3 separate regions of the Homo sapiens genome follow, and regions 2 and 3 are each linked to region 1. The links come from fine-mapping of genetic effects on gene expression. A gene starts in region 1. Each other region holds a variant in brackets. All regions are shown on one strand. Distances are between the middles of the regions.

The links. PIP is the estimated chance that this variant, and not a neighbour inherited with it, causes the effect.
Region 2: its variant is the best candidate, but not a certain one, in a credible set for the expression of ATP11A in whole blood (TOPMed, PIP 0.64).
Region 3: its variant is the best candidate, but not a certain one, in a credible set for the expression of ATP11A in whole blood (TOPMed, PIP 0.88).

Annotation. Positions count from the first base shown.
Region 1 is chr13:112,686,901-112,695,078 of GRCh38, forward strand. ATP11A (ATPase phospholipid transporting 11A) reads left to right here and starts at 3,138. Exons shown (of 30, transcript NM_015205.3): 1 at 3,138-3,555. The coding sequence starts at 3,517. It overlaps LOC102725228 (a long non-coding RNA gene), which reads right to left and starts at 2,915. Exons shown (of 2, transcript NR_187633.1): 1 at 2,763-2,915; 2 at 1-1,969. RefSeq lists enhancers at 1,975-2,492, 4,791-5,292 and silencers at 2,741-3,670, 3,691-3,930.
Region 2 is chr13:112,790,555-112,798,732 of GRCh38, forward strand. All of the region lies in intron 2 of ATP11A (ATPase phospholipid transporting 11A), which reads left to right. LOC124903252 (a long non-coding RNA gene) reads left to right here. Exons shown (of 2, transcript XR_007063947.1): 2 at 1-5,133. Among named protein-coding and RNA genes, the nearest start is that of ATP11A-AS1, 40 kb to the left of the region's middle. RefSeq lists an enhancer at 1-247. The variant G/A (reference allele first, on the strand shown) is at 3,255.
Region 3 is chr13:112,876,627-112,884,804 of GRCh38, forward strand. ATP11A (ATPase phospholipid transporting 11A) reads left to right here. Exons shown (of 30, transcript NM_015205.3): 29 at 1,591-1,677; 30 at 5,250-8,178. The coding sequence ends at 1,668. Among named protein-coding and RNA genes, the nearest start is that of MCF2L-AS1, 88 kb to the right of the region's middle. RefSeq lists enhancers at 2,639-2,783, 3,895-4,039, 5,120-5,264, 6,436-6,580 and cis regulatory regions at 2,711, 3,967, 5,192, 6,508. The variant C/T (reference allele first, on the strand shown) is at 4,801.

The DNA of each region.
Region 1 (8,178 bases):
ATGGGATCCTCCCATCAAGGAGTGAAATCTACGTTCTTATCCCTTGAATCTAGGCTGGCCTTGGAATTTATATTCACCAGTAGAACATGGTAGAAGTCATATTCTTGGACTTCCAAACCCGGGCCTTACAGGCTGTATAGCGTCCACATTGACCCTCCTGAGCTGCCATGTAAAAAACTCAGGCTAGACCACTGAATGATGAGAAGCCAGAGAGAGACAGCAAGGCCGGCCTGCCCCCAGTGTTCTATCACCCTAGCTGAGACCCCAGCTGTGTGACTAGACCACAGGAAGCTTCCAGCCCCAGCTGACCCCCAGAAGAATGCAGCTGCAGGACAATCCCAGCCAACAACAGGTGGAGCAGAAGCACCATCGCACCAATTCCGCAGGGTCCTGAGAAATGGTAACCCACTCACTGCCGTTTCAGCTCCTGCACTCGCGGTCACTCGTGACACAGCCAAAAATAACTGACTCACAGGGTGTCTTAGTCTGCTCAGGCTGCTGTAACAAAATCCTTTAGATGGCTATTCATACACACAGAAGTTTGCTTCCCACAGTTCTGAAGGCTGAGAAATCCAAGATCAAGGTCCCAGCAGATCTGGCATCTGAGAAAAGTTCTCTGCTTCATAGAAGGCCTCTTCTAAGCATCTTCATATGGCAGAAAGGGCAAGCAGGCTCCCAAAAACCTCAGTTTTAAAGGGCACTAATCCCATTCCTAACCACCTCCCAAGGCCCCCACCTCTTAATATTTGGGATTAGGTATCAGGTATTTGGGATTAGGTTTCCACGTGTGAATTTGGGAGGACACCTTCAGACCATAGCACAGGGTGAGTTGGACTTTGTTTTTTAATAGCCCTGATTTTTTTTTCTTAGATTTACCGTGAAGATGCTGACATGTGTTAGAAACAGAAAATCCAGCTCATGTGGTTTAAACGGAGACGTCTCTCATAGCAGGAAATTCCAGGTGAGGGCAGCAGGATTTTGGTGAATTGCCTGGTTGTGCCACCAAGGACTCCTGCTCTTCTCATCTTCCCAGGCGGCCACCCCAGGGTGAAGATGCTCTTCCGGCCACCTTCTCTTATAAGTGCAAAGGGCTGCGGAGCACCAGGCATTGCATCCAGACAGGGAATGCAACATTCACCAGGGAAAAAGGAGCATTTCCTCTTTATGTTCCTGTAGGAGTGAGAAAACCTTTGCCAGACAACCCCCAGCAGGCTTCCTGTTGGGACTCATTGACTTGAGCTTGTTTGAAGCCAATTGTTGGAAAGAGAAATGGAGTTACCAAGATTTTCTCAAGAGACAGAGTTTACCCTTAGCCACACAGAGTGGATACCTGAACCAGCAAGGATAGAGAGGGCATGGCTGCTGCATTGTCAACCAACAGTATTCACAACAGAATGAAAAACAATTCACATTTACTACTGAATAAAGCAGACACTCCTGACAGACAGGCAGCCTTGATCTAGTGCCTTATACAACCTCTGATTGCGCCTCGACCCCAATCCCACAGTCACGGTTTACAAGGTAGAAGCTTAGTCAAAATCCGGCTTCAGCAGTCAGGGTTCTTGCAGGAAACTGAAGGTGTTCTTGGGAGGGGATTTGGAAGCGAGTTTGATGAAGGACTCTTTGTTGCGGTGTGGTCATGGTTCAAGGATCCTTCAAAGGGTGCTGCTATTTAGGGACCAGCAACAATGGCAGACCGACAACATGTCTCACCCTAAGAGGCTTGGGGGCGGGGAGAAGTTCTGTTCGTAGAGCCTAGAGGAGTTGTGCAATGGAAAGGGCACCCAGGAAGAATCGTAGCCACAGAGTGAAACCAACACTGGTGGGTGTGGGGCCAGGCCAGGAAGGAGAGGGGAAGAGGCCCCTGCCTCCCTCCTACCCGGTCTGCAGCAGGTTGTCCCTGTGGGTGAAGATCCACTGAGGGGGACCGCCAGCTTCCTGAGCACAGGGCAGGCCAGAGCAGGACAGGCTGGGATGGAAAATGAAGAATCAGTGCTTTAGCCGACAACAAATGGGAGCCGTTTACTGTTTAGTCACTATGATTAGTGTTCACTAGTACTCATTTCTCTTCGTCTAAAAAGTGGCCAACACCATCTCTTTTCCACAAGCACTCGGGAGAACATTCATATTCAATTGCCTTCCTAAGACCCAGACGGGGCAGCGCTCTCCACAGGCCACCAAAAGGTGTTGCCTGTTTGGTTTCATCAGTGATTATCTGTGGCAGCAAGACAGGAAGTTGGAAATCAAGTACCTCAATTAAGTCAAGGCTGACCGTGGAATTAGAGAACAAGTGTTTGTTACCCCGGCCAGGTCACCCTAGGGAAAACAGGCATTCTCCGGGATTGAAATGGTGGTGTTTGTGTGGTAAATAGTTCTCAGTCCAGTTCAAAGCCAGCAGCATTAAGGACACGCCACCGCCACCGGGAGCTGGAGACCAGGCGAAGCTGAGCTCCTCTGTGGTTCACCAACCCCTCAGGCCGCCTAAGTGTCTTCTGCTGTCGCAGCTTTGGGGACAGAGGGGTTTCGGAAACAGGGGCCTCTTGTCTGCACCCTCCCCTCCCACTGACAGGCTGGCAGCCCAGGGCAGCCACCTGAGGAGCGTCCCTGTGTCTCTCCATCTGCAGAGCAGGAAAAGCCTGCGGGTCGGTGGCGCCACGCTGGGGCGAGACCCAGCTTCGGCTCAGGAGATCTCCCACCCAGCCGGACTCCCGCTCTCTGCCCGCGGCCCCCTCCCACACTCCCACCTCGCCCCGCGATCTCACTGCCCCATCGAGGCTTCCGGGCGGAGGAGAAAAGTTTTCCGGCAGGAACCCGGGAAGGAAGCCCTGGGACCCTGGCTGAAACTCCGGGTTTCCCCAGTGCCGAGTCCCTTCCCCGCCGCGCCCAGCGCCTGCGCCCCGGGAGGCGGAAGCAACAGGGGGGTTCCTCCCCGCGGCCTCTGACCTCTGCCCTCTGCCCTCTGCCCCCAGGGTCTGGGGCCCGGGCGGAGGCGCGAGGGGGCAGGGCCGGCGCGCGGGTGCGAGCGCGGGTGTGGGCGCGGGGCCGGCGGGGGCTGCGGCCGCGGGGCGCATGCTCACTTGCGCCGGTGACGTGCGCGCCCGGAGCAGGGGCAGGAGCCAGCGGGGCCCGGAGGCTCCAGAGGGCGGCGGGCAGGGGAGGAGGAGACTCGGGAGGAGCAGAGCGCAGGCTCCGCCGCGGCCGGGGTGCTCCAGCCGAGCCCAACCGAGCGGGCGGACCGACGGGGAGAGAGAAGGCGCCAGAGCGCGCGCGCGCGGCCCCGAGCAGCAGCCTTGCCGCCAGTGGAGCAGCTGCCGACGCGCGGGGCCGCGGACCCAGCATTCGCCGGCCGGGCCGGGCATGAGCGCGGAGGGGCCGCGGCCGCCCCCTGCACCGCCCGGCGCGCCGAGGCCGTGACCGGAGCGGGGGGCGCGGCCGCACTAGTACCCCGGAGCCCATGGGCGCGCCGAGCCGGGCGCGGGGGCGCTGAACGGCGGAGCGGGAGCGGCCGGAGGAGCCATGGACTGCAGCCTCGTGCGGACGCTCGTGCACAGATACGTGAGTGCTCCCGGCGCGGGCTGGGGGACCCGGGGACCAGACAGACGCGGGCCGGCCCCGCAGCCCGGACCCTGTGGCCGGTCCAGCCCCGGGGTCCCGGGAGGTCTCCGATGTCTGGGACTCGGACCGCCCCCGGGGACGAGCGGGATGCTGGGGAGGGGCCTCGGAGTTGACACCCTGGGGCTTCCGACGGGGTCTAGGTGGGCACAGCGCGGGGCCCCAGCCCCGGGCGGCCACCTGCTCCCTGGCCGCGGCCGCCTGGCGCCCCCTTCCCGCCCGCAGCGCCCTGGGGGTCCCTCGGAGAGGCTGGCTGGGGTTCGAGCTGTCCCGGCGGACCGGGCGCCCGGAGGGAGCCAACTTCGACCCCGCCGGGGCCCGGGTCTGGGGAGGAACCTTCAGATGCGGCTTCCGCGCAGCCGTGTCTGTAAGATTAAGGGATTGGGAGGAAGCGTTACACTTCTGCAGAAAAAGGTAGCAATTGTGTTTGTTCTTTAACACCCCTGGGGGATTCAGAAGCGGAGTTTGGAATCTTTTTATTTTTTACCTTAAAGTAACCAATTAGATCAGAAGTCCGGGGTCTTCTTGGGTTCCTCTGGAATTTGCCCCTTCAGTGATAAGCAAGTGAAGAGCTCAGGAGGGAAGACTCGGAAGGGGAAAAGTTGATTTTGTTTTACACCAGAGGAGGGGAAACCGGAATCCCTGGCGTTAGGTGTAAAAAGGGGTGTGTGGCCGGGCGCGGTGGCTCACGCCTGTAATCCCAGCACTTTTGGAGGCCGAGGCGGGCGGATCACGAGGTCAGGAGTTTGAGACCAGCCGGACCGACATGGTGAAACCCCGTCTCTGCTAAAAAATACGAAAATTAGCCGGGCGTGGTGGTAGGCGCCTGGGATCCCAGCTACTCAGGAGGCTGAGGCAGGAGAATCGCTTGAACCCGGGAGGCGGTGGTTGCAATGAGCCGAGATCGAGCCACTGCACTCCAACCTGGGTGACAGAGCGAGACTCTGTATCAAAAAAAAAAAAAAAAAAGGGTGTGTGTGTGTGTGTGTGTGTGTAGGAGAGGAAGAAAACTGTCCCAAGCACAGCGTTTCCTGCCACTGTCTTGCACAAGAGGCTTCATTGTTCCATAGAGGCTGGCGGTCACTGGTCAATCACAGGTTCGAGAAGTCGCATGCACCGGGTTTGATACTAGAGAGGGCAGTATTATGGGAACTTTGTTCTTTCCCGGCATAGGAATTACCTCAGGCAGCCTTTCATATTTATGAGCCTTCTTTAAATAGGAGACCTTGGCCAAAGATAGATAGGTTTCTTTTCAGTGGGGGATGCCAGATCAATGCTTTCCCCCGGATTTATTTATTAACCAAAAACCTCGGAGAGTCAAGGAGACTTGAGTGCACCTTACATCGTTTCCTGATCTCGGGGAAGCCTTAGGAAGGTCAGCCTGACTTACTTAAGTGGAGAGAACTCACCCCTGGTGATTCTGATGATTCCGATGCTAGATCTTGAAAGGCTTGGCTCCAGGAGCCTTGTGTTACTCCCTCACTGGTGCTCGAGCCCCCAGTTCAAATCCTAATGTGAGTGGTAAACCTGTGTTTCACTGTGGTAACGTTATAGAAGACCCAATCACAGTGACTATAGGTAACCTGCAGTGTAAGAGAAATGCTTTATTGGGCGGAAGCTTCTGTTCTCAGTTGTGTCGCTCAGAAGTGTGGGTCCCTAGACACCTTATTTTCCTGCTTTGTTTCCTTCGAGCGAAATGGAAGAGGGAAGGGACTAACACTCACTTTGCCCGCGGTGTTCCCAGTTCATTCCGTTCCCTTCTAACACTCAGTGTTAAAAAGGAGGGTCACGTTGTGGGGCTAATGTGCAGCCTCTTTCCATAGAAATGAGAGATGGATGGGCCAGCCCGGCTCACCCTTTGGAGAATCCCCCCTTCCCAGCCGGTTTCTGACCCCTTCATCTTGGGAGGGGGACAGACAGACGTCCAATTTTGATGCTTGACTCCCTTTCTCCAGGCCTTCAGCTGTTTTCTGTTATATAGATCTATATAAGTGTTTGCGTAGCTTGCATTTTTAATTCCCCTTTGCTGTATTATTACGCTTATGGCATCACATTTTCTTTTAATCTAAGCGGTAAATATTCTTTAGTGAACTTTTCCAGCATATACATTATTGGATAACGTCTCGGGAATACGAGTTGTGGGATAATATTATTTCTGTTTTTCTCATTCCACCTGTGTTTTTTGCAGTGTATTCATCTGGCTACCTCACCCATATTTACACACAGAGCCATTCATCTCTATCATTTTAAGTTCATGTCTATGGTATTAAACTAATTTGACTTTTTCCAGAAACAGTCATGATCTGTTTTCTTGTAATTGCGTTATCGTCCACTATGTAGGACTAAATTATATTTCCTTTTGCTACAGAAAAAAGAGTCTGGGATTGAATACTCATATTTCCTCATGGTTTCCTTATGTGACTTACTTTATTAAAAAGGATAGATAAATAGACCCTGTTCCTTCTTGGTGTTCACATAGTCAGAATTCCTGGGACAAAGAAAGCTTTCCAGCTCCTTCTGATGTGTGAGGGTGGCTAAAAGATAAAGAAGTCCTTGGAAAACATTGCTGTAGGCATTTTATTGTGGATTAACCCTGGAGAGATAGCAGAGGCAAATGAGTGAGAGAACAGATGAAGGTTAGGCCAGGGTAGCCAGGTACTCCACACTGTGTGTTACTGGTGGTTTGGGTGTTTGGATGGACCGGAGCCATGCAGAGATACTTTGTATTTGTAAATGGTGCCGTGTTTGTATACCATGAGGAGTGCTTGTGCTTATGGGGTAGTGTATGCTCCCTGGGGTGATGTATGTGCTCTGGGGGGCGTGGGGAAAAGCGTGTGTGCCGTGGGGTAGTGTATGTGCTGTGGGGTAGTGTATGCTCCCTAGGGTGATGTATGTGCTGTCGGGGGCGTGAGGTGGTGTATGCTCTCTGGGGTGATGTATGAGCTGTGGGTACGGGGAGAGGGGACGGGGTGGAGAGTGTGTGTGCCGTGGGGTGGTGTATGTGCTGTGGGAGCCATGGGGTAGCGTGTGTGCCGTGGACTGGCGTATGTGTTGTGGAGTAGTGTATGTGCTATGGGGTAGCATATGAGCCATGGGGTAGTGCATGTGCCATGAGGTAGTTTGACCTCCATGACGTAACACTTTAAAAGCACTTCTAGGCCAGGCGCGGTGGCTCATGCCTGTAATCCCAGCACTTTGGGAGGCCGAGGTGGGTGGATCGCCTGACATCAGGAGTTCAAGACCAACCTGGCCAACATGGTGAAACCCTGTCTCTACTAAAAATACAAAAATTAGCCGGGCATGGTGGCGGGTGCCTGTAATCCCAGCTACTCAGAAGGCTGAGGCAGGAGAATTGCTTGAGCACAGAAGGCGGAGGTTGCAGTGAGCTGAGATCGCACCATTGCACTCCAGCCTGGGCAACAAGAGCGAAACTCGTCTCAAAATAAATAAGAGTATTTTTAACAGCATGGATGGAGAGCGAGTTCCATTTCCTCTTCAGAGCTGTAAGGTGAGCAACACCGATTCAGGTAGTTTAAGTTCCGAGAGGAACCAGGGCAGCCTCAGCGGGTAGCTTAGATACTTTTCTTAGATACTCTCTGGGCAGTGGCCTGAATGCTGAGTGGGAGCCTCCCTGCCCTTCTTAGCCATGTGGCCTTGGGCAAGTGGCTTAATTCCTTCTGCCTCAGTTTTCTCCTCTGAGGGTAAGAGCAGTACTCATTTCATAGCTATTGTGAGGGTTGAATGAGGTAATCTGGGTGGAGAGCCAAGAATGGGGAAGCTCTCAGTCCGTTTGTCATGCCTGGCTGTTAACATAGCTGAGTCCCTGGGTAGGGTTGGCTGGGGAGAGAGCAAACCTATGGGCTGCCAGTGCTGCTGCTCAGCTACCTGTGGGTCCCGGCCTGCTGGCGTCGTGGGTCACAGGAGAGGTAAACCGGGCACCCTGACACTGAGCATGGTGTGGAGCTCAGGTAGGATTCAGAAAGCTTTACACGCTGTGGTAAAACAGCCCTTGATCTCTGTAAGGCTGAGCATCCCGGCGTGGGCAGGATGCTTCCCTCCCTCTTCCCTTCCATGCCTCTATGTAGGGCATTTGATTTTTCTTCAGAGTTCTGTGGGTCAAGAACTCAGTCTTGTTATGGTCCTATAATCTTCTTTCAATGATTCAGCCCAGATATTCCTTGTTAGTTTTGTTCTTTTGCCTGTCAGAGCTTCTGCTTGTTTCTACCTTACCATTCTTGCTTCTTAACATTCTAAGATAGAAAACATTGAAGGATCTGAAGGATTTCCTTGCTGACAGTAGATAATTACTTTCAACACAAACTGTTATAAGTTTTTTTCTAAGAGAAAAATAAACATTTTTGCTTCCCGAGAACTTGAAGCAGTGCTATATTAGAGTGTGTTAAACCTTCTAGAAAGTCCAGCTATTTATATGCATGCATACATATCTGCTTCTTTTATTTATTACCGAATGGTGTATAATGTGAACATCAGTGTTCAACTGTGAGGTTGCCCCTTCTGAAAGACAGACTTATTTATTTAACTCAGTTATGCCAGCCCCTGTTTTAA
Region 2 (8,178 bases), 100 kb after region 1:
TGTAGACTCCTGTGGAGACCTACTTAATTCACACCGGGTGTCCTGATGTGTAGACCCCTGCGATAGACCTCCTTAATCCACACCGGGTGTCCTGATGTGTAGACCCCTGCGATAGACCTCCTTAATCCACACCGGGTGTCCTGATGTGTAGACTCCTGTGGAGACTTACTTAATTCACACTCAAGCATCCTGGCATGTAGACCCCTGTGGTTCTTAATTATTTATGTGCTCTTGAAGAGTTGCACATTTTTAAAGAATATTTTACAACAGAAAAGGTCACCTTTTCAAAGCCTTTTTTATGGGATTAATTTGTAACTACAGGATTGCAAAAAATTTTAATAGCTTTAACCTCTAGAAACAGGATATGTAAATGCTGAAAAACAAAGTCCCAACCAGATAAGTCCTGTGGGTGGTTTCCCAGTCATGATTCATGGAAGGAGAAATGTACTGATGAGAAATCACATCCAAAATATTGTCTCTGCAGTGGTAATACTTACAAAGTCGACGCAGTCTCAGGCGGAGCTCACTGAAGATGGTTTCCAAGCTTATATGTACTTCACCCATCCCCCACCCTCCAGCCCAAAACAAATCCCAAACATACTGCTTAGAACTCAGCCTGCGCAGCCCAGAGGTACAGAGAGGCAGGAAGCACCCAGGTGTCCACATACGGTGCCATTGTGGACTTGTAGGGCAGGATTCCAGGATATGGGTGATGGGCGTGTGGAACCGCGGCGCCCCCTGCACAGTGTGGCTCATTTGAGCCGGATGGGGGCCGTGAAGGCATCACCCAGCCTGCCCCCTGGGAGCTGGCTTCTCCCTTCCTGGGGCGGAGCTCGCCCGACAGCCCCACATGCCTGGTTCTCCCTGCAGATGAGGGTGCTGTGTGGGGTCACAGGGAAGAAACCAGCAGCAGCGGCAGAGCTTGATCCAGGCATTGGAGGAGGGTCCTGGTACCCCTGGCAGGGGCTGGCGGGAAGCTGCACTTCTGTCATTGCCCATGGCGGCTTTGGAGGAGATGACAGAGCATGGCGAATTCTGCCTCCCACTCCTGACCCCTCTGCTGTGTCATTCAAGTTTTGTCCTTTTCCTACTGTCCGTTTCGAACGTCACTGCAGGCAGTGGCCTCGGTGGCTTCGCTCCGCCTGGCCCTGCTCCCTGGCTCTGTGCTACCCTCTCTCCCCCTCGGCTGGGCCCTTCCTCTCCGCTGCTCCCTGTGGAACTGGAGCCCCTCAAGGTCTCTTCAGTTTCTGATCCGGGGAGCCCTGCAGGTTGTCAGGATGGGTTTTGTGGGCTTATTGCTGCTTTCCAGGACCTTTGAGAAGCCGTAAGTCTCCTTCCTACCAGGAAGCCCTCACTCAGGAACGCACAGACCGGGGTCAACAGGCTCTCAGGAGCGCCGTCTGCGTGCAGGTGGAGGGTGTGGCGGGGCCAGGAGAGCACTTGGCCGCCTTTCATCTCAACCTCTGAGGACAGAAGGGGGCTCTCAAATCCGCCCATGCATTGAGATCTTCGCTCTTCACAGAGGTGGGATTAGTAGCTTAGTCTCAGTTTCAAGTGGATGAGGTTGTGTAATTTCAAGGGAAAATTACATCCGGCAATACCTCTTTTGCTAATGGAACTCAGGAAGGAAAGGCCCTCAGAAAGGCTGGAGTCTGGAATCTAGGCAGGTAGCTGGCCTGACAGTAACCTTGATCCAGGTAAACCAAAGTGGAATTCTCGAGCCTGGAATTGATGACTCATAATTGTTTTCATTTAACAGCTCAGGATGTGTGAAAAAAAAATGCTGTTTAATTTGTAAGACCTAAGTTTACGACTGATTTTGGAGAATACATTTGTGATAATGTATCTATGTTTTCCTGGGGTGGCGGAGGAAATGATTTCTACCTAAAAAAAAGAAATGCTAGTAGTTAAGACTTTTTAAGTGCCACAGAAGCTTGTTCTCAGCAAGTTTGCTTTTATGAAATCAAAGGATGAAAGCCTTTGTCATGGAAGAAGTCGTAATAGAGGATGAAAATGCTGTCGGGTTATTTTTAACTTCTCATCTGTTTGACGGAAGTGCAGTTACTGGTGATAGGTGATGATAGAGTTTGTTTCCTTCTTGGGGGAGAGACTTTGGGCAGTGTCAAAACCTGAAATGACAGCCCAGCACGCCCCGTTCCCTGCTTCCTGTGCTGTGCAGAGCTCCCCCAGGCCTGCTTGCACCCCCCACGTGGGGAATCCTGAACTCCACAAAGGGATGGATCACTGCATGCCTCCTTTTCCAGATTTGTACTTTGGGGCACAGAATTCACATGGTTCCCAGCTTTGCCCACAGGAGGCTACAGAATTAAATGTTGGCTTAGACTATACTGTCCCTCCATGCCTTCAAGAAAGTTGAATCCTTCTGGTAATTGGGGAGAAAAAATTCCCTCTGCAATTCGTAGGTATAGCCAGTGTTTTCATGACTTCTATTTGTATAAATGATTTCCATGTTTATTATATCATGTAATCTCTAAAACAACCCTGTGAGCCCACCAATACTGATTATTACCAATGTATCCATGAGGAAGCTGAGGCTTAGAGCTCAGTCATGTGCCTGAGGCCACAGAAGAGGATAGAGCCCCTGTAGTCTGGCACTGGGCTTGGACTTCCTTCCGCAGAGCCAGGGGCCCTTTCTTTTCATTTTTGAGACAGAGTCTCTCTCTGTGCCCAGGCTGGAGTGCAATGGTGCGATCCTGGCTCACTGCAACCTCCACCGCCCGGGTTTAAGTGATTCTCCTGCCTCAGCCTCCCAAGTAGCTGGAACTACAGGTGCCCACCACCACACCTAGTTAATTTTTATGTTTTTAGCAAAGATGGGGTTTTGCCATTGTTGGCCAGGCTGGTCTTGTACTCCTGACCTCAGGTGATTCACCCGCCTCGGCCTCCCAAAGTGCTGGGTTTACAGACGTGAGTCGCCGCGCCCATCCAGGGGCACGTTTCTTAACAGCCCCTCTGGGTGCTCACGAATTTCCGGCATCAGCAATCCACCATCCTGGCATAATTTTCTGTGTTTTGCATCCCTGCCTCCCGGTCATAAACAAAAGAGTGACCTCAGTTCCATGCGAGTGGCTGCTTGTCCCAAGCAGATGGGTGTCCGGCGTCCCCGCCTTTTTCAGGACTGTCAGGTGGGCCCTGTGGTGCTGGAGCTGTGTTCAGGTGAACACTAGTTGAGGCTTCAGACAGCTTGTAGGTGCTCCTGCGGGCGCCTGGGCTGCTGGCAGGGGACAGTGCCC[G/A]GGTTCGTCTCGCAGCCAGAGGCCAGAGGCAGGCCAGGTGAGGCCATGCTCTTCCCTGTCTGCACACCACACTGCTGGCAAGTAACACAAAACAGAGACTGGCTACCCCAAGGGGCAGGAGGCAGCGGAAACCTGAGGCTCAGACACTAGTGAGGCGTTCCAGCTCAGGGCCAAAATCAGAGCCAGGGCAGCTGTGGACTCTGGCTATGGCGTCTGTCGTACAAGTGAGAAACGAAAAGAATGACTGTCCCGTGTCATTCAGCAAAACACATGGTGTCTTTGGAGGTGAAGAGAGGTGCCAAGCACCACTCGGTTTTCCCAGATTTCCTGTAGGAGGAAAACCACTTGGTTCTATGCTGTGGCTTTCACGCCAGGAGCTCCTAGGATTGAGGACGTCTACTGATTGTATCACAGTCGAAGGGCCCAGTGTTACATTACATTGTGTCCCCAGGCAAATACTTACATTTTTACAATTCAACAACGATGAGCGAAGGATAACTGTCCACCATTGTCAGCCTTCCCACTCTAACGTGTGGAATAAAATGCTCATTTCAGTTGATTGTATCCCGATGGTACTGCTGTGTCAGTGCAGTCACGACCCTTTAAATGAGTTCCCTGGGATTTCACTTTTCTTGTTAGACATCACCAGGAATTAATAACCCTCCTTTTGACAATAGTAGTGGTCAGCAGTAATAACTTACTCTGTGAAACATAGAGATTACACAGCATCATGGGGCTTGGCTGCAGCCCTCAGTGCCTGATTAGAATAAAGCAATTGAGGCCAGGCGCAGTGGCTCACACCTGTAATCCCAGAACTTTGGGAGGCCGAAGCGGGCGGATCACGAGGTCAGGAGTTCTAGACAAGCCTGGCCAACATGGTGAAATCCTGTCTCTACCAAAAAATAAAAAATTAACTGCGTGTGGTGGCGGGCGCCTGTATTTCTAGCTACTCGGGAGGTTGAGGCAGGAAAATCGCTTGAACCCGGGAGGCAGAGGTTGCAGTGAGCCGAGATTGTGCCAACGCACTCCAGCCTGGGTGACAGACAGAGTAAGACCCTGTCTCAAGAAAAGAAAAGAAAAAAAGAATAAAGCAATCATGCAGGTGGTTTCAAATTCCAAAGCTGTACAGTAACATTCAAATATGGCAAGGCCCTGCCAGGTGCGGTGGCTCACGCCTGTAATTCCAGCACTTTGGGAGGCTGAGGCAGGTGGATCACCTGAAGTCAGGAGTTCAAGATCAGCCTGGGCAACATGGTGAAATCCCGTCTCTATTAAAAATACAAAAATTAGCCGGGCATCTTGGGGGGTTGCCTGTAATCCCAGCTACTCGGGAGGCTGAGGCACGAGAATCGCTTGAACCTGGGAGGCAGAGGTTGCAGTGAGCCGAGATGGCGCCACTGCACTCCAGCCTGGGCGACAGAGTGAGACTTCATCTCAAAATAAATAAATAAATAAGTTATGGCAAGTCCATGAGTTTGCACAGCCTTCCAGGCCTGATGGAAGTAGATCTGCATGTTTGGAAGGATTGCAGATCATATTTTATCTCATAAATATTACCAGAACTTCCTCGTGTAACATGGGAACTTTCAAAACCATAGAGAGGAGCATTGTAAATCTCTGTGGCTCGTCTCCACTGTCACAGTTCCCAGCTTGTGGCCAGCCTGTTGCATCTGCACCTTCACTGTAGTTCCAAGGGTCCTTTGGAAGGAATCCTGGACAGCGTGTACTTTTCATCTGAAAGTACTTCAGTAAATGAAAGGTGGAATTTTAAGTAGACTCTTTTTTCATTAATGTGACTTTGTTACTGAGTGATGTATTATAGAAATTTGTGGAAACGTATAATTGTAATAAATTTGTTGGCTTGGATGCTGGAAAGTAAGACTGGCCTCACATGGGTGAGCTAAGGTATTTCTTTAATGTATCCTTTTAAAAGCTAATGGAGAGTAACTGACTTTTTCATTGTGGCCCATTTGAGAGAAAATATATCTTTCTCAAATATTTAAAAAGGTCGATCACATGTGTAATGTTTGCCAAGTTGTATACACAAGAAAACTAGAACTCAGAATCATTAAATAATTTGCTGAAGTTTACATGGTTTTTAAATGGCAGGGTCAGGATCGAATATGGGGACTGACTCTGAAGTCTATGTGTTTCATAGTATGCTAAAGAGTAAATATTTCCAGAATTTCGATAGAGTACCTAAATTATCTTGAGGTGGGGTTAGCAAATTGTGAATTAAGATTGTGGTTTTTGTAAAGGAAGAAAGTGCCTATACTTTTATTGGCAATCTGGTGTTTTTGTTTGCTTTTTTTCTGAATGAGAAACAAAAGAAATGAAGAGCTAGCCATGTGTTCTCTACTCTGTCTCAGTTTGTATGGCTACTTTTCCATCCAGAGCTCTTGCCTTTTGGTTCTCAATTTGGTTGCATTCCCATGAAGAAAACCTAGTGTGGCAGGCAGAAGGATGGCCTCCCACAGATGTCCACATCCTGATCCCCAGAACCTCTGACTATGACACTGTCTGTGGCCAGGGAATCAAGATTGCCAAACAGCTGACATTAAAATAGGGAGGTGATTATAGAACTATTCATGTGGCCAAAAGTAACCACAGAGGCACTTGTAAGTGGAAGAGGGAGGCAGAACAGACTGTCCGAGCTACGACTGGCTTCAGAGGTTGAAGGGGACCAAAGGATGTAGGCAGCCTCTGCAGGAAGCAAGAAAAGGCAAGAAAAGTTTCTCCCTGGAGCCTCCAGGAAGGAACCAGCCCTGCTGATACTTTAATTTTAACCCAGTGAATCCCATTGCAAACTTCTGACCTCCAGAACAGTAAGGTAATAAATTTGCATTGTTTTAAGTCACAAAGTGGAATTTGTTATAGCAGCATAAGAAACTCATACACCTGTCCTAACTACTTTGGGGATTTATAATACAGACTGTACGGAGATTGACGCGGTGTCAAAGGACCCGTGACCTTGAGACATGCCCATAGAATCATACACCTGCCCTAGCCACATCGGGGATTTGTAATACAGGCTGCTCAGAGACTGACGTGGTGTGCAAAGGACCCGTGACCTTGAGACATGTCCATAGAAACTTTCCAAACTGAAGAGCAAAGAGGAAAAAAGAGTGAAGAAACAGAACAGAACTGTGGACAACTACAATAGGTGAAGCAGGCCAGGCACGGTGGTCACGCCTGTAATCCTGGCGCTTTGGGAGGCTAAGGTGGGCAGATCACCTGAGGTCAGGAGTTTGAGACAAGACTGGCCAACATGGTGAAACCCCGTCTGTACTGAAAATACAAAAAATAAAAATTTTTTTTAAAAAAATTAGCCAGGTGTGGTGGCAGGTGCCTGTAATCCCAGCTACTTGGGAGGCTGAGGCACAAGAATCCCTTGAAGCTGGGAGGCAGAGGTTGCAGTGAGCCAAGATAGCACCACTGCACTCCACCCTGGGCAGCCAGAGTGAAAACTCCATCTCAAAAAAAAAAAAAAAAAAAAAGGTAAACCATATATGCATAATGAAAAAAACAAAAGAAGAGAGAAGAAATATCTCCAGTAAAAGTGGCTATTTCCAAAATTAATGGCAGATGCCAAACTACCGATCCAGGAAGCTCAGAGATAAATACAAAAGCAGAATAAATTTTTTAAAAAGGGTACACCTAGACATATCACATTTAAATTGCAGAAAATTAGACTCAGAAAAAATCTTGAAAGAAGCCACAGGAAAAGAACATTTTACCTGCTGAGAAACAAGGGTAAGAATTATATCAAACTTTCTTCCAGAAACCATCTAAGGAAGAAAAGAATAATGTAAAATATTTAAAGTGTTGAAAGAAAAAGCCAGCAACCCAGAATTCTGTATCTCATAAAATTATCCTTCATTCGTGAAGGAGAAATAAAGACTTTTTCAGGCAAACAAAAATTGAGCGAATTCATTGCCAGTAGACCTCCCTTGCAAGAAATGTTAAAAGTTCTTCAGAAAGAAGGAAAATTATATAGGTCAGAAATTCAGGTCTACTTAGGAAAGAAGAACACAGCACTAAAGTGTGAGTTTTTGTGCTGTTACAACAGAATACCACAGACTGGGTAATTTATAGAGAAGAGACATTGATTTCCCCACAGTTCTAGAGTCTGGGAAGTCCAAGATCAAGACACTGGCAGGTTTGGTGTCTGGTGAGGGCCCCATCTCTGCTTCCAAGATGGCTCCTTGAGCACTGCATCCTCTGGAGTGGGGGAAGGCTGTGTCCTTATGTGGCAGAAGGCAAAAGGGCAAAGGGGCAAACTCCCTCTGCCGAGCCCTTTTATACAGGCACCTAATCCCATTCATGAGGGAGGAGCCCGCATGGCGGAATCAGAACTCTTGAAGGCCCCGCCTCCTGGGACCGTGACTAGTTGTCACATTGGCAACACCTGAATTTTGGAGGGGACACATTCAAACCATAGCAAGAAGGAATAAGTGAAGGTAGTAAAATTAAATATTTTGCTTTTTTGTTGTTTTTTATTTCTTTTAGAGACGTGATCTCACCATGTTGCCCAGACGGGTTTAGAACTTCTGGGCTCAAGGGATCCACTGCCTCAGCCTCCTGAAGTGCTAGGATTACAGGGCACAGCACCCAGCTTGCTTTTCGTGTTCTTAATTGGTCTAACAGAGAGTACTTTATTCAGAATGATAATAGCATTTACTCAGTGGTGATTGCTCAGGGGTGAATGAAATGTATGACAGCAGTGCCCTGGGGGGCAAGAAGGAACTGGGCATGCTGTTGCGAGGAATCTGCGCCACACACACAGTGCGGGTTATGTGAGAGTGGGCGTATATTGTGGCCTCTAGTGCAACCACTAAGTAATTTTTTTAAAAAATAAGTATAGTTGATATTCTAAGACAGGAGAGAAAATAGTCACATCAAATGCTTAATTAAAACCCAAGAT
Region 3 (8,178 bases), 190 kb after region 1:
AAGTTTCATCCCCGAAATTTCCAATCACTCCTTGAGGTGGAGCCCTGGACTGGGCAGTGCTGAAGCCCAATGGGGAAATGAGGGGTGGGGGCCCCTGGCAGTGGCTGCTCCTGCAGGGTGTGAGGCTCCCCAGGTGGGAGGAAGACGGGGAGTGAGTGGGGGCCGGGGCCCCAGCCCTGACTCACTCACGTAGCTCAGACACCCGGGGGCTGGCTCCCAGCGGTGCTGCTGTGCTGGGAGGGAAGACAGGTTGCCCTCCCTTGGGGGGCACAGCCTCACCCACCACCCACCTCCAACAATCAGAATGGGACCCTGGCTTGAGAGCTTTCTTGGGACATTGGTGCCGATTTGAAATGTTGAAACCGATGCCACCAGTTCCCGGCACTCCCTCCTTCATGCCTCCTGCCACAGTTTGTAAAATCAGAGCGAGCAAAACTCGTGGTGAAGAGACTGCCTCTCAATGTAGTGAAAATGTCCACACACAGCTCCACTGACTCGGGGGCCACAGGCAGGAGAAACGCAGCAGAACGTGCCAGTTGGCTGCTTATAAGAAGGTCCCACTGAGGGGCCTCTGTGCAGGAGGGGAGACAGTGGGAGCAGGAGCCGGGGCCCTGGCTGAGACTCCGCGGCCCCCAGTGCTTCAGGGGAAACTCACCGGCCCCAAGCAGCCACTCACTGCCCAGCCCTGCCTGTGGCCCGAGAAGCAGCTGTCCAGTGGTGGTTTTCTCTAAGCACGGTCCTTGGTTACTGAGCTCTTTAGCTGTGCAGTTCCACAGCGGGCACACGTGTTCATGACAGGGCTCTGTGCATGGGACACGTGTTCATAACCACATCCCATACATGGGGACGTGGCAGACACACATGTAACAAGGACATCAGGCACAGAAGAGACAGCAGGGCTGGGGGTCTGACCCCGAGAGAGAGCAGGTGCAGCTTGGGGGTGTCTGCTGGGCCCCTAGCTGTGGCCACAGTGGTGTGGCTTGGGGTTTGCACGAGTCTCAGCCCCACCTGGCCCCTGGGTGCATGTGGCTGCAGAGGTGCTTGGTCAAAGATGCCTGAGCAGGCAGGAGTTGAACTCGGGGGGTTAGGAGGGCCTCTCCCCGCAGGAGTCTGGGCTCTTCCATGCACTGTGCACGCAGCCTCCAGAGTCGGGGCTGCCGAGGGCCACGCCCCCGGATGTGTCTGACCACAGGCCCTCTGCTCTGCAACTCATCTCCAGGATGGGTGGGCACTTTGGGAATGCCAGTGAGGACCCTCCCCGTCCCACCCTTTGTTTAGAAGCCCCTGTATTGCTGTGGGTCTCTGCGTCCCACAAGAGCCCCGGGAATGCTTATGAACAGCTACACAGCGGGACCTGCAGAAGGCATAAAGCAGGGGGTGGGAGGGGCTGGCGGGTCACGGTGGGGGGCACCAGTGTCCGCCCAGAGTGACCAGAAGAACTTGCACGTGGTGGCGAGCCTCTGACTAACTCAGCTCTGTCTCTTGTTTCTCTTTCCTTCCCATTTCCTTCCGTCTTCCGACCGCTTTGCCTAAATCCTCACACCTTGTTCACACACCCCTGTGTGCGTGGCCGCTGACCTCGGGACTAAGACTAAGAGCCAGTGCCTTTCTGTCGAGCAGTCAACCATCTTTATGCTTTCTCAGACTTCCAGCAGCCTGAGTTTCTGATGGAACAAGGTGATGCTCCTCTGCCTTCCACGCACCTGGGATGGTAGACACGGGGCAGCAGGGCCATGCCCATCACCAGAGCCCTGAGTCCACGTGCTCTGACGCAGCGTCCACCAGGCGCTGGGTACAGCAGCCTCACGTCGGGAAGTCCCGCCACCACTTACACCTTCTCATGCACAGACTGATCATGGGCTGTGCTTTCCATCAGTCACAGTTAACCAGGGTTTCTCCCTCAGCGTCCGTGCAGCCTCAGAACCCACCTGTGTGAGGGTTCAGACACAGCTGACAGCGGAGAGCTGGCCACATGACCCCTCACACAGGTGTCAGAGGGGTTCCTAAGCAGGAAGGTGTGAGAGTTTGCAATTCACAGGTCATCCAGGCTCTGAGCTCACACACCCTTCCCTCTGCAGCCTGTAGAGCGTGGATCACAAGGCCTCCTCCCTCACGCACCCACTTCTGTGCCCATTCTGCAGCTGGAAAGACTGAGGGCAGCTAGGATAACACGGTTTGCTCAGGACCCATGCACATTTCAGAAAAGGGGAGCCAGGCTGAGCCACACAACTGGAGACAAAGAGGGGACGGAAGTGTTTGGTGTCAAATGTTTGACCAAATTCCCTTTTTACTGTTTTTTAAATGAAAACCTCATTGTTTTTCAAAAAAGCCTTCTATTAATAATTTGCTTTAAAAATGACGACCTTGGCCTTTCTGGGCAATGTAGAGGCGTTCACACGCCATTTTTCTGCGGTGGTGTCCATGATAAGAGCCGAGATTGCAGGGGCCTGCACGCCGTCCTGAAGTCGCGTTCTGTCTTTTAGCCGTGTGCTCCTGCACCAAATACCGCCTTCACGCATGCCTCCAAATCAGTGATGCTTTGAAAATGCATACTTGGTATTACTGTTTTACCAAATGCAGCTTAGAAAAATGCCCAAAGCAGAAAAAGGCTTCTTTTCCCTTTAATAACATCATCTTCTATATATTTTAAACAGGATTTTTAACTGACAAAATGGTCCTTTTTTAAGTCCAAGCAATTAATCAGAATCAACAGTTTTCTAATTTAGTGTCATCAGAATTTGTTAGATTAAATTGCAGAATTTCATCTCACCATTTCTGTACTTGAAGACATTTAGGATGAAATTATTAGGAACATTTTAATGACTCATAAGAGGTCCTTAAGAAACTGATTAAATCATGCCAACTCTGAGCTAAAAATAAGCATTCTAACGATTCATGTAGTTTGTTGAGAGCTGATTTGCTTCTGAGCATGTACGGAAGCTGAGCCCGGCTGCGTAGAGACAGTGGCACGGAGTTTCTCCTGCCCCCTGCGAGGCCTTGGGCCCCGGCATGACCCCCACAGACAGGGCCGGCGTCCACACTTGAACAGAAAGCGCCTGCAGCCAGCACATGCCCGGCGCACACGGGAACACGCCGTGGCGCCGAGACCACCTGCGTTCTGCAAAACTTTGGAGGAATAAACGTGTCACTAGTCCTCACGTGGGGCATATGTTACTTCCAGTGGATGGCTTTCTTTTAACCTGTTCCTACGGAAAAGAAAAGCATCACAGGCCTCAGATGTATATGTTATATATGTGCGATTTGCACATATATGCCCGTGCTGGCATCTCTGCGTATCTGCATGCAGTTCACTTCTCCGTCACTGTCCCCAGGAAGGGTGGCAGCCTCATCCTCTGTTTCCTACTTCTCCTCACCTGGGCGTTTGCCCATTCAGACGTGCAATTGTGCAATTCCAAGCCCGCAGTTCTTCAGCTCCTGTGCTTCCCTTATTCCTTGAATAAGGCTGGGCTACAAGATCTCAGTGGAGTTCTGTGAGCACGCTGGACTCAGGAAAGTCCGTCGCAGGGCCCTGGTAGAGCGGTTACTGGAGCTCGCTGTCTGCCGTGGAAGTGGGCGTGTGGCTGAACGTGTGGCTTCAGGATTCCAGCGGTGCCTGGTAGACCTTCCAGCCGAGGGACCTCAGACCCTCTGCCTCCCGCGGGTGCATGGCCCGTCCCTGAGCCTGTCGCTGTCTCAGTTCTGGGCTCGGGCCCCTCATGGGAGCGGCCCTGCTGGGACAGTGTTTTCCCAAGACGCCCCAAGCCCTCGCCCTGGCAGCTCCATGACACCCCATGCAGACTCCAACAGGGGCTTCGAGCCTCTTCCTGCTGGGGTCCCACGGATGGTGCAGGCAGAGGCCCGAGCACTCCTGGTGGCCCCGTGTGGCCCACGTCGCTCAGTATCTTTCCTCGCCTTGCAGAGGGGTGTGAAGCACAAGGCTCCAGTCCAGGCCGCACAGAGCAGCGATGGGCCCCTCCTGAAGGACCTCCTACGGCGGCCAAGGCGCAGTTAGCTCCACGCTAGGTAACTGTGCGGCTGCTGGACGCCGCCCGTGTGCTGTGACTGTCAGACCCGTTTTTCCTCCAAAGTTGTGCTGTGCTGTGCTGTCTTTGATAACAAAGGTTCACGGTGAGAAAGAGCAGCCCTCTTTACACACACATGCATTTGCTGTCCCAGGTAAGTAACACGCCTGAGGGCAAGCTGACCACACATGGAACATGCTGTGCACACACACGTGTGCACACTCACCCCACACGCACGGCACACAGCCTGACCAGACCCAGCATCGTCAGACACAGGCTCACGATCCTGGTCTTTCGGGGGACACAGCTTCACTTAAAAGGCCCATCAGGAAGGACCGTGCTTTGAAATCAAACGTGGTTATTGCATGGTTTGTGTGGAACTGGGGCCCAGGCAGGTGTGAGTGCAGGTCTTCTGTGTGCCAGCCGGAGCACATAGCTTGTCGCCTCTCCAACAGACATGGAGGCCATGAAGACATCTGCTCCTGCCAGCATCCGCCGCTGCCCCCTGGTCTAAAAGTGGGCTGACCTGGGGACGGCCCCTCATCAGACAGATGCGTGCTGCCGGCCTCCTGCCGCTCCCCTTGCTGGTCAGACCCACAGGGCCCGTGCACATCCGGGGCCCCAGTGGGCTGTCAGAAGCCATGCAGGCCCCATCCGTATGGTGACATCCTAGGCAACATGTCAAGGGGATGCAAGCTGGGCACGTCCAGTACTAAATCAACCCGGTCCCTGTGGGGTGGGGCCTGCCTTCCCTGGGGCAGTGAGTTCGCCTTTTGTT[C/T]AAGGGTCTCTGGGTACCGGTATGGCGTTCGAGCTCACTGCACAGGAAGCCAGCTACAGGGAGGAAGCTCGTAGGTTTCCCGTCCATGGCCTGTATCCCTGGGGCCCCTGGGTTCTTCCCTGGGATGGTGGGACAGGGGGACGGTCACTCTGTTGGTACTGAAAAGGAGAGGCCCTCATTCCTAGACAGAGACCCCTCGCCTCCATATGGCTTCTCTGGTGGGGTGGATCCCGCCCGGCCTGCCCTCAGGACGAGGGTGTGTCCTGAGTTGAGTCTAGCAGTTCCTGCAGGAGGCGATGGTAGTGAGTGCATCCCAGAGTGGCTCAGGTCACCCCAGGCAGCCCCGTGGGTATCCCTGAGACTGACCATGTGTCTCGTTCTCTCAGCAGAATGGGTGCGCACAGCCTCGGGACCGCGACTCAGAATTCACCCCTCTTGCCTCTCTGCAGAGCCCAGGCTACCAGAGCACCTGTCCCTCGGCCGCCTGGTACAGCTCCCACTCTCAGCAGGTGACACTCGCGGCCTGGAAGGAGAAGGTGTCCACGGAGCCCCCACCCATCCTCGGCGGTTCCCATCACCACTGCAGTTCCATCCCAAGTCACAGCTGCCCTAGGTCCCGTGTGGGAATGCTCGTGTGATGGATGGTCCTAAGCCTGTGGAGACTGTGCACGTGCCTCTTCCTGGCCCCCAGCAGGCAAGGAGGGGGGTCACAGGCCTTGCCCTCGAGCATGGCACCCTGGCCGCCTGGACCCAGCACTGTGGTTGTTGAGCCACACCAGTGGCCTCTGGGCATTCGGCTCAACGCAGGAGGGACATTCTGCTGGCCCACCCTGCGCGCTGTCATGCAGAGGCCATTCCCCCAGGCCTGTGTCTTCACCCACCTGCCATCATTGGCCTTTGCTGTCACTGGGAGAGAAGAGCCGTCCAGGGACCCATGGTGGCCCACATGTGGATGCCACATGCTGCTGTTTCCTGCTTGCCCGGCCACCACCCATGCCCTCCATAGGGTGAGGTGGAGCCATGGTGGTGCGTCCTTTACTCAACAACCCTCCAATCCGGATGCTGTGGGAAGGGCCGGGTCACTCGGATACCATCATCCCTGCGGATGCACCGCCGTACCCTGCTCATCTGGGAGTGGTTTCCCTGCGGTTACGTCCAAGCCCGCCTGCCCTGTGTGTTGGGGCTGGCTGAGTTTCGGTCTCCCCATCACCGGCCGCCTCGTGGAGAAGGCAGTGCCACGTGGGAGGACAAGGCCACGCCGGCAGCTTCCAGCCCTGCCGCAGAAGTGCCAGGATGTCCATCAGCCACTCGCCAGGGCACGGAGCCGTCAGTCCACTGTTACGGGAGAATGTTGATTTCGCGGGTGCGAGGGCCGGGAGACAGATACTTGGCTGTGATGAGCAGACATCCTCTGTCCCCGTGGAGGGGTCAACACCAAGGTGGTGTTCGTGCACCAGAACCTGTCTCGGGCTGACGGGGGTGGCACACAGGACACGGGTGGATCCCAACAGGCAGCACCGCACCTCTGCCCGCCTCCCGCACTGCAGCTCCGCCCGCCGGGCTCTGCGTCCCCACGTCCCCTCGTCCCATCCCCACGTCCCCTCATCCCGTCACCTCGTCCCCACATCCCCTTGCCCCGTCACCTCGTCCTCATGTCCCCTTGTCCTGTCACCTCGTCCCCACGTCCCCTCGTCTCCTCATCCCCACGTCCTCTCGTCCCCTTGTCCCGTCCCCACATACCCTCGTCCCCATGTCCCCACGCAGGGCTCTCCTTCGTCTTAGGATCTGTCCAGCGCTGCTCTGGGTGGGTTAGCAACCCCAGGGCTGCTGTGATAGGAAGTCCCTGTTGTTCTCCGTACTGGCATTTCTATTTCTAGAAATAATATTTGACATAGCCTTAATGGTCCTTAAAGAAGACATTTCAGTGTGAGATTCAGACTTCAGACGCTGAAACTGCTGCCTTTCAGGAAAGCACCACCAACGCTGGAGGAGGAGCCGGCCCTCACGCCCGCCCCGCGCCACGCTGTGGAACGGGGCTCCGGCAAGTGAAACCCAGAGGGTGTTTCCGAGGTGCTCGACAGTAGGTATTTTTGGAAGCTCAGATTTCACCATTTGATTGTATAATCTTTTACCTATAAAATATTTATTTGAAGTAGAGGGTAAATCAGCGGTAAGAACAGTGAACACAGTGGTTGGGATAAAATAAGGTGACAAACATCACACCAAAGATGAGGGTAGCGAGCAACTGGCTTGAGCAGACAGAACGGGGAAGACTCCACTCTGTCCCGAGGGGCCAGCCGCAGGCGTCCCCAGGGCCACCCTGCCCTGAGGTCCTTGTGTGGCCGCCCTGGCTTGGCAGCCCTGCCCACGCTGCCCCCGCAAACAATGGTGTGTGCGTTTTTACAGCCCTTTTTAGGAACCCAATATGGGCATAAATGTAACACCTGTAGCGGGGGCAGATTCTCTGTATGTTCAGTTAACAAATTATTTGTAATGTATTTTTTTAGAAATCTTAAAATTGCCTTTGCACTGAAGTATTTTCATAGCTGTTTATATCTCTTTTATTCATTTATTTAACATACTGTCTAATTTTAAAAATAGGTTTTTAAAGCTTTCATTTTTAAGTTTATGAAATTTTGGCCACTTTACATTTAGATTCTGGTGAGAGTTTTGACTGAATGTTCCAATCTCTGATGAATGCGAATTTTCAGATTTGATTTTATTCTCTACACACACCTCTTCTTTTCTTGGTATTTCTGGTGGCAGTGATTAGTTGAACAGCACATTTAAGGCACGATAATTTGCTACACTTTTTCTTTACAATTTGTTGCAATTTCATCTGCTTTCTATGTTTCATTGTTAATTGCCATCCTTCAGCCTTAAAAATAGAAGATTCTCACGTGAAGGTTTAGTAAGTTGGGTCCCAGCTCTGCCTGTGTGGAGATAGTCACCATGTACCTCTGACAACAAGTTTTAGTGTGAAAGTCACTAAACTTTTACACACTCCCAAACGTCTTTTTAAAAATTGCTTGGGAAATTATTAAATGAATGTGCCTGATGATTTGAAATAGACAAGGGGCACGAGATAAAAAAGAAAAGGATGAGAAGATCCTCAGTGAATGACGTTGCAGGGTCTTCATGCAATTTTCCACCTCGCAGTAGTTAGTATTTACTTGCCTTAAACTAACTTTGAAGCAAGTAATGTCAACTTTGAGCACTTTGTTGAGTTTTGAAAAATCTTATTTGTTGCTGCACAGGTTAATAAATTATCAATTTGTAATTCAGCATGTTGGTCAGAGACACGGTCACTGATTCACACCCAGTCCCTGCCACAGACCGTCTCAGACACGCACAGTGGGCCTGCTGCATGATTCACAC